2 separate regions of the Homo sapiens genome follow, and region 1 is linked to region 2. The links come from fine-mapping of genetic effects on gene expression. A gene starts in region 2. The other region holds a variant in brackets. All regions are shown on one strand. Distances are between the middles of the regions.

What was found. PIP is the estimated chance that this variant, and not a neighbour inherited with it, causes the effect.
Region 1: its variant is fine-mapped to the expression of ARHGDIG in skeletal muscle (GTEx, PIP 0.98).

The regions. Positions count from the first base shown.
Region 1 is chr16:240,035-245,397 of GRCh38, reverse strand. The region is part of intron 1 of FAM234A (family with sequence similarity 234 member A); the gene reads right to left. Among named protein-coding and RNA genes, the nearest start is that of FAM234A, 7.9 kb to the right of the region's middle. The variant A/G (reference allele first, on the strand shown) is at 2,625.
Region 2 is chr16:278,088-283,450 of GRCh38, reverse strand. ARHGDIG (Rho GDP dissociation inhibitor gamma) reads right to left here and starts at 2,860. Exons shown (of 6, transcript NM_001176.4): 1 at 2,698-2,860; 2 at 1,526-1,705; 3 at 1,343-1,426; 4 at 1,078-1,154; 5 at 921-984; 6 at 441-836. The coding sequence starts at 2,770. The coding sequence ends at 637. It overlaps PDIA2 (protein disulfide isomerase family A member 2), which reads right to left and starts at 287. Exons shown (of 11, transcript NM_006849.4): 1 at 83-287. The coding sequence starts at 281. RefSeq lists an enhancer at 1,962-2,719.

The DNA of each region.
Region 1 (5,363 bases), 38 kb after region 2:
CAGCAGGACCAATGACATTAACAAAAGTTAAGCATTTCATTTTATCTGATCTTGAGACAGGGTCTCACTCTGTGGCCCAGGCTGGAGGGCAGTGGTGATCTAGGCTCACTGCAACCTCCTCCTGCTGGGTTCGAGAGATTCTCCCACCTCAGCCTATAAAGTAGCTGGGACCACAGGTGTGCATCACCGCGCCGGGCAAATTTTTGTATTTTTTGTAGAGACAGAGTTTCGCCACGTTGCCCAGGCTGGTCTCAAACTCCAGGGCCCAAGTGATCTGCCTGCCTCAGCCTCCCAAAGTGTGGGCCACGCCCAGCCTAAAAGTTAAGCATTTTAAAATGTGTTGGTGAGAATATACGATAACAGGTCTGCAGTACAATAGTCGTGGGAATTTGAAATGGTAGTTATTGGTCGAGCGCGATGGCTCATGCCTGTAATCCCAGCACGTTGGGAGGCTGAGGCGGGCAGATCACCTGAGGTCGGGAGTTTGAGACCAGCCTGACCAACATGGAGAAACCCCATCTCTACTAAAAATACAAAAAAAAATTAGCCGGGCGTGGTGGTGCATGCCTGTAATCCCAGCTACTCGGGAGGCTGAGGCAGGAGAATCACTTGAACCTGGGAGGCAGAGGGTGCAGTGGCCAAGATCGTGCCATTCCACTCCAGCCTGGGCAACAAAAGCAAAATTCCGTCTCAAAAAAAAAAAAAAAAAAAAAAAGAGGTTACCATTCAGGGAAGCAGACTTCAGGGTCCAGCCCTGTGCTATTTTTACAACATTTTGTGAATCTATAAGTAGTCCAAAATAAAAAGTATAAAATAGAAAATCAAAAGAGAAAAGAAAACCGTTAGTAAGGGGGAGTGGGGTCAGAGGTTCATGTAAGTTTTAGAGGAAGAACCAGCTTCTCCACAGGCAGCTTGGTTTGTGCCTCAAAGCTACCTTAATATGAAGCTATTTTGTTCCAAAGGCAGGAGTCCTTTTAGTGTTTTGTTTATTTTTGGAAGAATATCAATAGTGGAGTTTTGTGGTAGCCTGAAGAAATACTGAAAGAAGAGCCAAACCCCTGGCATGTTACAATTCTCCATTACAAAATAATCACCAGCTTCCTCAAAACCATCCATTAAAATCATTTTCCGACCGGGCGCGGTGGCTCACGCCTGTAATCCCAGCACTTTGGGAGGCCAAGGCGGGTGGATCACAAGGTCAGGAGATCGAGACCATCCTAGCTAACACGGTGAAACCCCATCTCTACTAAAGATAGAAAAAATTAGCCGGGCGTGGTGGCGGGTGCCTGTAGTCCCAGCTACTCAGGAGGCTGAGGCAGGAGAATGGTGTGAACCTGGGAGGCGGAGGTTGCAGTGAGCCGAGATGGCACCACTGCACTCCAGCCTGGGTGACAGAGCAAGACTCCGACTCAAAAAAAAAAAAAATCATTTTCCTTTCCACTGTGGGGAAAAAACGGATATGCACAGCATTTATAACAATACTCCCCAAATACTTACCTGAGCAAATGCCAGAGTTTAAAAGGGGTCGTCTCCAAAGTCAGACAATGTGGTGACAATGAAAATGCCCCAAGGGGTGGGAACTCTTACTGCTATACAGCCTCTGCACATGCTTTCACACCGGCCTGGCCACAGAAAAGGGGTGTGTGTTTAACACGAATAAGGCCTGTCTTTGGAAAATTAAAAAGCTGGTCAGGAATTCCTTCACAGGATCTCCAGGTAAGACTTCCTTTTTGGAAACTTGACTGAGCCACCAGAAATAGGGGTAGTTATTAAAAGCCACAACGGCAAGGCAGCCAAAGCCAGGCAGTTCATGATTCAACCAGTTTGCAAATAAAGACACCATGAGACAGGTCCAAAGATTTGCTCATCAACAGCAAGAAGATACCAATGTTTTTCTCTACTGCGGTCATTAAAAATACCAGGAGCCGTAGCCAGAGCTTCAGGAACCTGACTGGCAGAGAAAATCCCCATGGACCCAGGTCAGAGAGACTTGAGCAGGGCACTGTCCTTGCTCTACTTTAGCATCCATACCATTGACCACAGAGAGTCAGGCCATGTGGCTATTTAAAAAAACAGAAAACAGAACTCAACAAGCTAATAACCAAAAATTTAACTTCATGGCCGGGCAGGGTGGTTCACGCCTATAATCCTAGTGCTTTGGGAGGCTGAGGCAGGAGGATGACTTGAGGCCAGGTGTTCGAGACCAGTCTGGGCAACATGGGGAGACCCCATCTCTACAAAAAGTAAAATAAAATTAGGTGTAGTGGCATGTGCTTGTAGTCCCAGCTACCTGGGAGGCTGAGGTGGGAGGTTAGCTTGAGCCCAAGAGGTTGAGGCTGCAGTGAGCTGTGATCATTATCACTACATTCCAGTTTGGGCAACAGAGTGAGACCTTGTTTCAAAAAAAAAAAAAAAAGTGAGGGCTCAGAAAGAAAAGAAAATTTGTCAATACAATACGTATTAATTAAGGTAAAAGACCTGACACGGGATGGGCGTGGTAGCTCACGCCTGTAATCCCAGCACTTTGGGAGGCTGAGGTGGGTGGATCGCAAGGTCAGGAGTTCGAGACCAATTTGGCCAACATGGTGAAACTCCATCTCTACTAAAAATACAAAAAATTAACC[A/G]GGCGTGGTGATGTGCATCAGTAATCCCAGCTACTCAGGAGGCTGAGGCAGGAGAATCGCTTGAACCCGGGGGGCAGAGGTTGCAGTGAGCTGAGATAGCGCCATTGCACTCCAGCCTGGACGACAGAGCGAGACTCTGTCTCAGAAAAAAAAAAAAAAAAGGAGCTGACACCAAGAATAACTTGAAGAAAGAAAGATAAACACAATACCTCATATATGGTTATTCAAACGGATTATTCCCCTGGCCTACAGAACTATCAGTAAGCCCGCGGTGACTCGTGCCTATAAACCCAGCATTTTGGGAGGCCGAGGTGGACAGATCACTGGAGGACAGGAGTTCAAGACCAGGCTGGCCAACATGGTGAAACCCCGACTCTACTAAAAATACAAAATTAGGTGGGTATGTTGGTGTCTGCCTATAGTCTCAGCTACTGGGAAGGCTGAAGCACGAGAATCACTTCAGCCTGGGAGGTAGGGGATGTGGTGAGCCAAGATCGTACTACTGCACTCCAGCCCGGGTGATAGACCAAGACTCTGTCTCAAAAAAAAGGACTATCGGTAAACCAGCTGTCCACTCTAGGCCACTGAGGCTGCCACACCTATCTGTCCTCCAGGGAGTCCACAGGCTACCCAGTCCTGAGTGGAAACTCTGATTAGGGGGAAGAACAAAACAATCCAGCAGTAGTTTGCACAGCTCATTAACATTTCGGCAGGGGTGGGGCAGGAATACCACAGTCCATGCAGAAAGGAAGTGACAGGTCTCTCCCTTTTCTCCAAGAGTTCTTTCTCTAAGAAGTTTACTGAGTCACAGAGAACAGAAAATAAAAACAAAAGTCTCATTCTAATTGCCTTTTTTTTTTTTTTTTTTGAGACGTTGTCTCGCTCTGTCGCCCAGGCTGGAGTGCAGTGGTGCAATCTTGGCTCACTGCAACCTCCGCCTCCTGGTTTCAAGCCTCAGCCTCCCCAGTAGCTGGGACTACAGGTGCCCGCCACCAAGCCCGGCTAATTTTTTGTATTTTTAGTAGAGATGGGGTTTCACTGTGTTAGCCAGGATGGTCTCGATCTGCTGACCTCGTGATCCGCCCGCCTCGGCCTCCCAAAGTGCTGGGATTACAGGCCTGAGCCACCGCGCCCGGCCTCTAATTTTTTTAATTGCAGAAATTTGATGAAAACTTTTTTTTTTTTGACACAGGGTCTTGCTCTGTTGCCCAGGCTGGAATGAAGTGGTGCAATCATGGCTCACTGCAGCCTTGAATCCCCGGGCTCAAGAGATCCTCCCGCCTCAGGCTCCCCAGTAGCTGGGAGCACAGGCATGCACCAGCTAATTTTTGTTCAGCTAATCTTTAAATTTTTTGTAGAAATGAGAGCCTCACTATGTTGCCCAGGCTCCTCTGTAACTCCTGGGTTCATGTGATCCTCCCACCTCTGCCTCCCGAAGTGCTAGAATGACAGGTGTGAACCACCGTGCCCAGCCTGAAGCAGACAGCTTTTTTTTTTTCTTTCTTTTTGTGTAGACCTCCTCTGCGGTCAAGATAAGTGTTTTAAGGCTAGGCACAGTAGCATACATTTGTAATCCCAGCAACTTCGGGAGGCTACAGCAGGAGGCAGGAAGATCACTCGAGCGCAGGAGTTCGAGACCAGCCTGGGCAACATGACAAAACCCTACCTCCACAAAAAAATACAAAAACTAGCCGGGTATGGTGGTATGTGCCTCTAGTCCCAGCTGTGCGAGAGACTGAGGTTCCCTTGAGCCTGGGAGGTGAGCGGAGATCACACCACTGCATTCCAGTCTAGGCAACAGGGCAAGACCCTGTCTCAAAAAAAAGAGAAGAAAACAGTGTTTTAAATGGATAAAATATTTAGTTAATATTTAGAGGAAAACTATGATTATAGATTAATGTTACTATCTAGTTTCACCAGTTAGAAACAGAAACTGAAAAGATTTTGTCAATGGATTAAAAATAATAAGCCCAGCTGGGTGTGGTAGCTCACAACTGTAATCTCAGCACTTTAGGAGGCCTAGGCGGCTGGATCACTTGAGGTCAGGAGTGCGAGACCAACCTGGCCAACATTGTGAAACCCCATCTCTACTAAAAGTACAAAAATTAGCCGGCGTGGTGGCACGCGCCTGTAGTCCCAGCTACTAGGGAGGCTGAGGCAGGAGTATCGCTTTAACCAAGGAGGCAGAGGTTGCAGTGAGCTGAGATCGCACCATTGTACTCCAGCCTTGGCAACAAGAGCAAGACTCTGTCTCAAAAAAAAAAAAAAAAATACACCCAGATGCAGCGGCTCAAGCCTTAAATAAGTTTGGGGTGACCCCCACTGACCCTGGTTAACCACACTCCACCCCAGAGAACTCAGTATTTTTCTTTCAAAGCACTCATCATACTTCTCTTACCTGGCAGAAAGAAAGCTATTTAAGGCCAGGAAGATGTCTGCTGTGTCCCCTGAGCCAAATGGATGAAAGAGAACTTAAAAGACAAGTAAGATAACTCACAATCAAGATCTGAATTTTCCGACAGACTTCATCATCCATAATCACTAACCAATCTTGTAGCGAGTGTGCCCAAATGCTTGTCCCCAAATCCAGCTGCTATACACACAAATGACTTAAGAAATGTATTTACACAATGTGGCTGTGTCACCACCAAGAACACGCTGGGCATTTGACAGCAATTCAACATGAGCTTCAGAGACACCCACAACAGCCAATGAGGCAGATGTTTCAGCTGAGCAAAG
Region 2 (5,363 bases):
ATTTGCCGGCAAAGGGTGGGGCCCCCAGGTGGGCTCTGCCGGTCCCCCGCCGGTCCCCAGCCCCACTGGCCCCAGCACTCACAGAATTCCACCAGCAGGGCAGGGTGCTCCCGCAGGGCCAGGCCCAGGGTGTGGCGGCTCAGCACCAAGATCCCATCCTCCTTGGGGATTTCCTCCTCTGGAGGCTCCTCCGAGGGGCTCCTCGCTCCCTGTTCCTGACCCCATGGGCACGAAGCCCTGAGCAGCAGCAGCAGCAGTACAGGCAGAAGCTGGCGGCTCATGGTGCTGCCAGGGCGCGTGGGGCGGGGGCAGATAAGGGGGCCAGAAGCCAAGCAGCAGCTGCCACGTGGCACACAGGCCCAGTCCCAGCAAAGACAAGGCCCATGCGGCCGCCCCCGGCCCCCAGGGGAGGGGAGGCAGAAAGAGACGACACCCAGGGCACCGAGAGAGACAGGGCCATGTTTAATGGGACAGCTCAGGGGACAGCGCCAGGCCAGGGGGTCCCGGGACAGAGCAGGGGCAGCAGGGGCAGCAGGGGCAGCAGGGGAGGGTCTGGTCACTCACGGGGGGTGCTGGGGATGCTTGGGGGTCCCTGTGCAACAACTGAGGGAGGTAGGGGAGACACGGACTGGGGGTTCAGTCCTTCCAGTCCTGGCAGATGCAGAGACCCCACTCCCAGGACAGGTGGTGCGTCCTGTCATCGTCGGTGAAGAGGGACACCACCAGATAGGGGCCCCGCACCAGCGCACCCCTCGGCGCTTCCTCCACCGGAGTCACAAACTCATACTCCTGGGCGCTCGGGCCATAGCTGCCCACCATGTAGACGGTCTTGTCCACTAGGGAGGGCGAGGGCATCAGAGCTGTCCTCTGTCTGCCCCCGCTTCCCCCCCCCGCCCCGTTCCCCCCACCGCTGCCCTCACCGCGCAGGCCCCGGCGGTAGGTGTGGTGCAGACACTTGAGGCCGCTGACAATCTCCCTGTGGACCTGGGAACAGAGGCATTAGGGGTTCCTCTGGGGGCCAGGCCTCTGGCTGTTGCCCCCACCCCCATCCCCTCCGCCCATTGCCCCGGCTCTCACCTTGAAGGAGATCTTCACTCTGTAATCAACACCTTCCTTCAGGACAAACACCTGGTCCTTCAGAACAGCCAGGTCCCCTATTGGGGAAACCTCAGCTAGGGTCGGAACTCCCCTACAGGCTGAGACCTGCTCCAGGAGCCCCCACGTAGGGTGTGGTACCCATGAGGTGTGCGACTGTGATGGCCCAGGGCTCGGAACTCAGGGGTGCAGAAGCGTGCCTGGGAGGGCCCTACCTGTGTTCAGGGTGCAGCATCCTGCGAGTTACCTGTGAGATCCATGACGACGGGCCCCGGAGCCTGTTCCGACAGGAGTGTCAGCCTGGTCACCTGCACATTGGGCAGGCTTGGGTCTGAGGAGAAACTGGAAGTCTGCAGGATGCCCCCCACCCCCACCAGGCTCCTCACCAGCCCCCCAGACCCAGCCCTCCAAGCCTAGACCCCTGCCATACCCACGGCCGGTGGCAGGGGCCCCAGCAGCACCCGCTTGTACTTGGCCAGGCTCCTGTCGTCCGGGTCCAGCTGCCGGATCTCCAAGAGGCTCTTCCTCCCCGGCGCCCGGTACTCGGGCACAGCCTCATCCAACACCTCGTCCACTGCCGGCGGCCCACCCTCCTTGTCAGCCAGGAGGACTGGGGGTGGGGAGGGGCGTGAGCAGCAGCCACTAGCGGACCCTGGCATTCGAGCACCAGGCTGGAGCCCCCTCTGGCCAGCTGTACCTCCCACTATCCAAAGGGACTCAAGGGAAGCCTCTGGGGGCTCAGGGAGAGAGCGAGCAGAGAGAGCAGGGCGGCCTGGGGAGGTGCCGCACCGCACCCAGACCTTCAGGAGGGGCCTCCAGAGACCGCCAGGCCTGCAGCTCCTCTGGCCCAGATGTCCACAAGGGCCCCCTCCCTGACTCGGAGACCAAAGGGCGGGGGAGCGAAGACTTCAGATGAGGGCAGCCCAGGGTCAGGGGCTACCTGCTAGAGAGCAGCGGCCCTCGGCGGCCCCCAAACCTACTGACCCTCTAGGGCCCTCGGCGGCCCCCAAACCTACTGACCCTCTAGGGCCCTCGGCGGCCCCCCAAGCCTACTGACCCTCTAGGGCCCTCCACCACCCTGCTCTGGACTGGGGTCTCTGAACACTTTCCCACAGTCTAGGAGTTCCTCCCCATGGTGCTCGGGTGCCGGGGGCGGCTGTCTCCAAATCCCTGGGCTCAGGCTCTGCGCCGCCTCCCATGGCGCCCCGGGCTGGTGGCCTCCTGAAGCCCCTCTCCCTGGTGCCCTGGGCAGGGGTTTCTGAGTCCCTGCCCACTTCGCTCCCGTCTTCTCGGGGATCACCACACGCCCTACAGAGCCTGAGCCCCAGCCCCAGCCCCACCCAAGACAGAGGGGCTCCAGGCGGCGGTGTCCAGGGGGAGAGGGTCCCAGCGCCGCCGCTTCCCAAGCCGACCCGTCCGCACCTGGTCCCTTCCCCACAGGGCTGGAGCCTGGATGAAGTCCCCCACCCCTGCCAGACCCCAGCCGGGGGGTCGGCGCCGCGAGGTCCCCATGCGCGCCCCCAAAGTTGCCGCGGGGGAGGGGCTACTCCCCGCCCGGGGCTGAGACCAGCCGAGCCCCCCGCCCCTGCCCGGCCCGCTCACCTCGGGCGCACAGCGCCAGCCGGAGCAGCTCCAGCAGCTGCGCCCCCAGCTCGCACGCGTCCAGGCCCAGCATGGCGGCGCGCGGCCCGGGCGCCGCGGAGCCGCCGAGGAGCCGCCGCCCGCCCCGCCGCCGCCCCGCTCGGCGCTCAGCCCCGGCGCGACTGCGGTGAGCTCATCCCGGCCGGGAGCGCCCCCCGCGCCCAGCCGCGCCCGGCAGAGAGCCCCCAGCCGCTCCGGACCCCGCGCAGCCCCGCAGAGACGCGCGTGTCGCCCGCACGGGCCGGCACCCGGGTCGCCCCCGCCGGCGTGCCAGGACCCCGCACAGAAGCGCCCGGACGCGGACGCACGCAGCCGCGGTCACGATCCCCGCCGCCCGCCCGGCCCGTGCCCGGCTCTGGCCAGCAGGGCTGCCCCACCCCCACGGCGCGGCGGGAGCCCGAGGGGGTCTCCTGGGAAACCCTCTGCGGGGCGCCGTGGCGCAGGTGCGCCCCCATCCCCAGGGTCTCATTATCCGCGGCCACACCTGGGGCCGGACCGCGCGCCCCCTTCCCCTCCCCCGCTCCTGAGGGAGCTTCTGTCTGGGCCGAGGGGGACTCCGGGGGCCTGCCCAGCCTTGGGGTGAGGGGCTGGCCCAACACCCTACAGGTTCACGGTCATCAGTAGGGCGGGACCACAGTGGGCGCGGGTCGCACGCACACCCAGGAGGCAACAAGGGCCCCTCAAAGGCTTAGCGACCTGGCTGCGCTGTGTGAGTTCCCAAGAGGGGGTGTCCCTGCAGGGCTCTTGGAAACCCAGTTACCGAGCCCCCTGTCCTCAGGGAGAGGACACTGACAAGGGGGCGGAGTACAGAGACCGGAGCACAGAGGGGGCTTCTGATATTGACACCTAAACTGAGACCTGTGGGTGGGTGGGGGGGATGGGACCCGGCAGGGGACAGGGGTGAGCAGGCCCTGGCTGGGACAGCTGGACCAAAGGCCTGCGTCTGGATAAGGGAGAAGGGGTCCGAACACCAGCCTGAGTCCCTTTCTTAGACACCCCTGGCCGGTTCCAGGGACACCAGAAATTAGACCCGCCCTTGCCAAAGAGCTCCTCAATTGAGAGAAGACCACCTTGGGTGCTAGGGGGCATTGGGGTTTGGGTGGGGACTGTCTCCCTTGCCCCCCAACTGCCCACAACCTTTCCAGGGCAGGATCCTATGAACTTGTGCCCAGGCCCCCCTAGAGCGCCACCTCTGCTGACCCTTCGCTGCAGGGAGCGGGGGCTGTTAGGACACTTGTCCCCAGGCCCACAGCTCCAGCTCCTGCAGCTGTTACCAGATAGAAGGTCTTGGAGGTGAGTTGTCCAGGTTCTTGGTGGGTTGAACAAAGAATTGAACAAAACGCACAAAGTAACAAAAGAACAACGAAACACAAGGAAACAAAACTGAGTCAGAAGAACGGAGTAAGGAAAGCACAGATTTAACGGAAGGCAATTCACAGAGTGGGAGTGGGCTGGAGCAAGTAGCTCCAGAGCCTCTGTAATTAGGATTTTTATTAAGCAAAGAAACCTGACCACAGCCCTTGTGCCCTTTAGAGGCCTCCAATTGGCTACACCCTATGAAGGATTGGCCCGAGACCAATCAGAGGTGAAGTGGAAATTTCTGTCTTGTTATCACAGCAGCCAGGATGTGGCTTGTGAGCTGCCCAATCCTGCCTAGAACTGGCTGCACCTGCTGTTCCGTTTCTTATGCCCAACCCTTGGCTACCCTCATTCCCTATTCTGCCTCACAGCTACCATGGGTGCCCACCCCTGCAGACAGGGCAGCCAGACCTGGGCCACCTCACCCCACCTGGGTGTGGGGCATGGGAGGGCTCACTGGGATCCAAGCGAGATGGTACCCTGGAGTAAGAGACCCCACAAGCCCCCTGCCCCAGCTCATGCTGAACGTGGCCTCTCCGGCAATGGAAATGGACTCAGACCACTATGTTAGGGGCTCCCAGCCCAAGGCCAACCGCCCACCCTGCCCAGCCCCTAGCACCCTCTGAGTGGGTAAGGATGGGGAGAGGTACTCTGCCTCCAAGAAAGCAGAAATAGACCAGATGCGGTGGTACACATCTGTAGTCCCAGCTACTCAGGACGCTGGGGTGGGAGAATCACTTGAGCTCAGGAGTTTGAGGCTGCAATGAGTTTATGATTGCACCACTGCACTCCAGCCTGGGTGACAGAATGAGACTGCCATCTCTCAAAAAATAAATACATAGCCAGGTGCCATGGCTCATGCCTGTAATCCCAACATTTGGGAGGCTGAGGCAGGAGGATCACTTGAGGCCAGGAGTTCAAGATCAGCCAGCCTAGGCAACACAGCAAGAAACTGAGGCCCTTACAGACAGGGATAAGCGAGGGGCTACGTGTATATTTATCTACAAAAATAAAAATGAAATTAAAAAAAAAATTAGTGGCCAGGTGCGGTGGCTCATGCCTGTAATCCCAGCACTTTGGGAGGCCAAGGCAGGTGGATCACTTGAGGTCAGGAAGTTTGATACCAGCCTGGCCAACACGGTGAAACCCCATCTCTACTAAAAATGCAAAAAAAAAAACAAAAAAAAAAATTAGCCGGGCATGGTGGCGCATGCCTCTGATCCCACCTACTTGGGAGCTGAGGCAAGAGAATCGCTTGAACCCAGGAG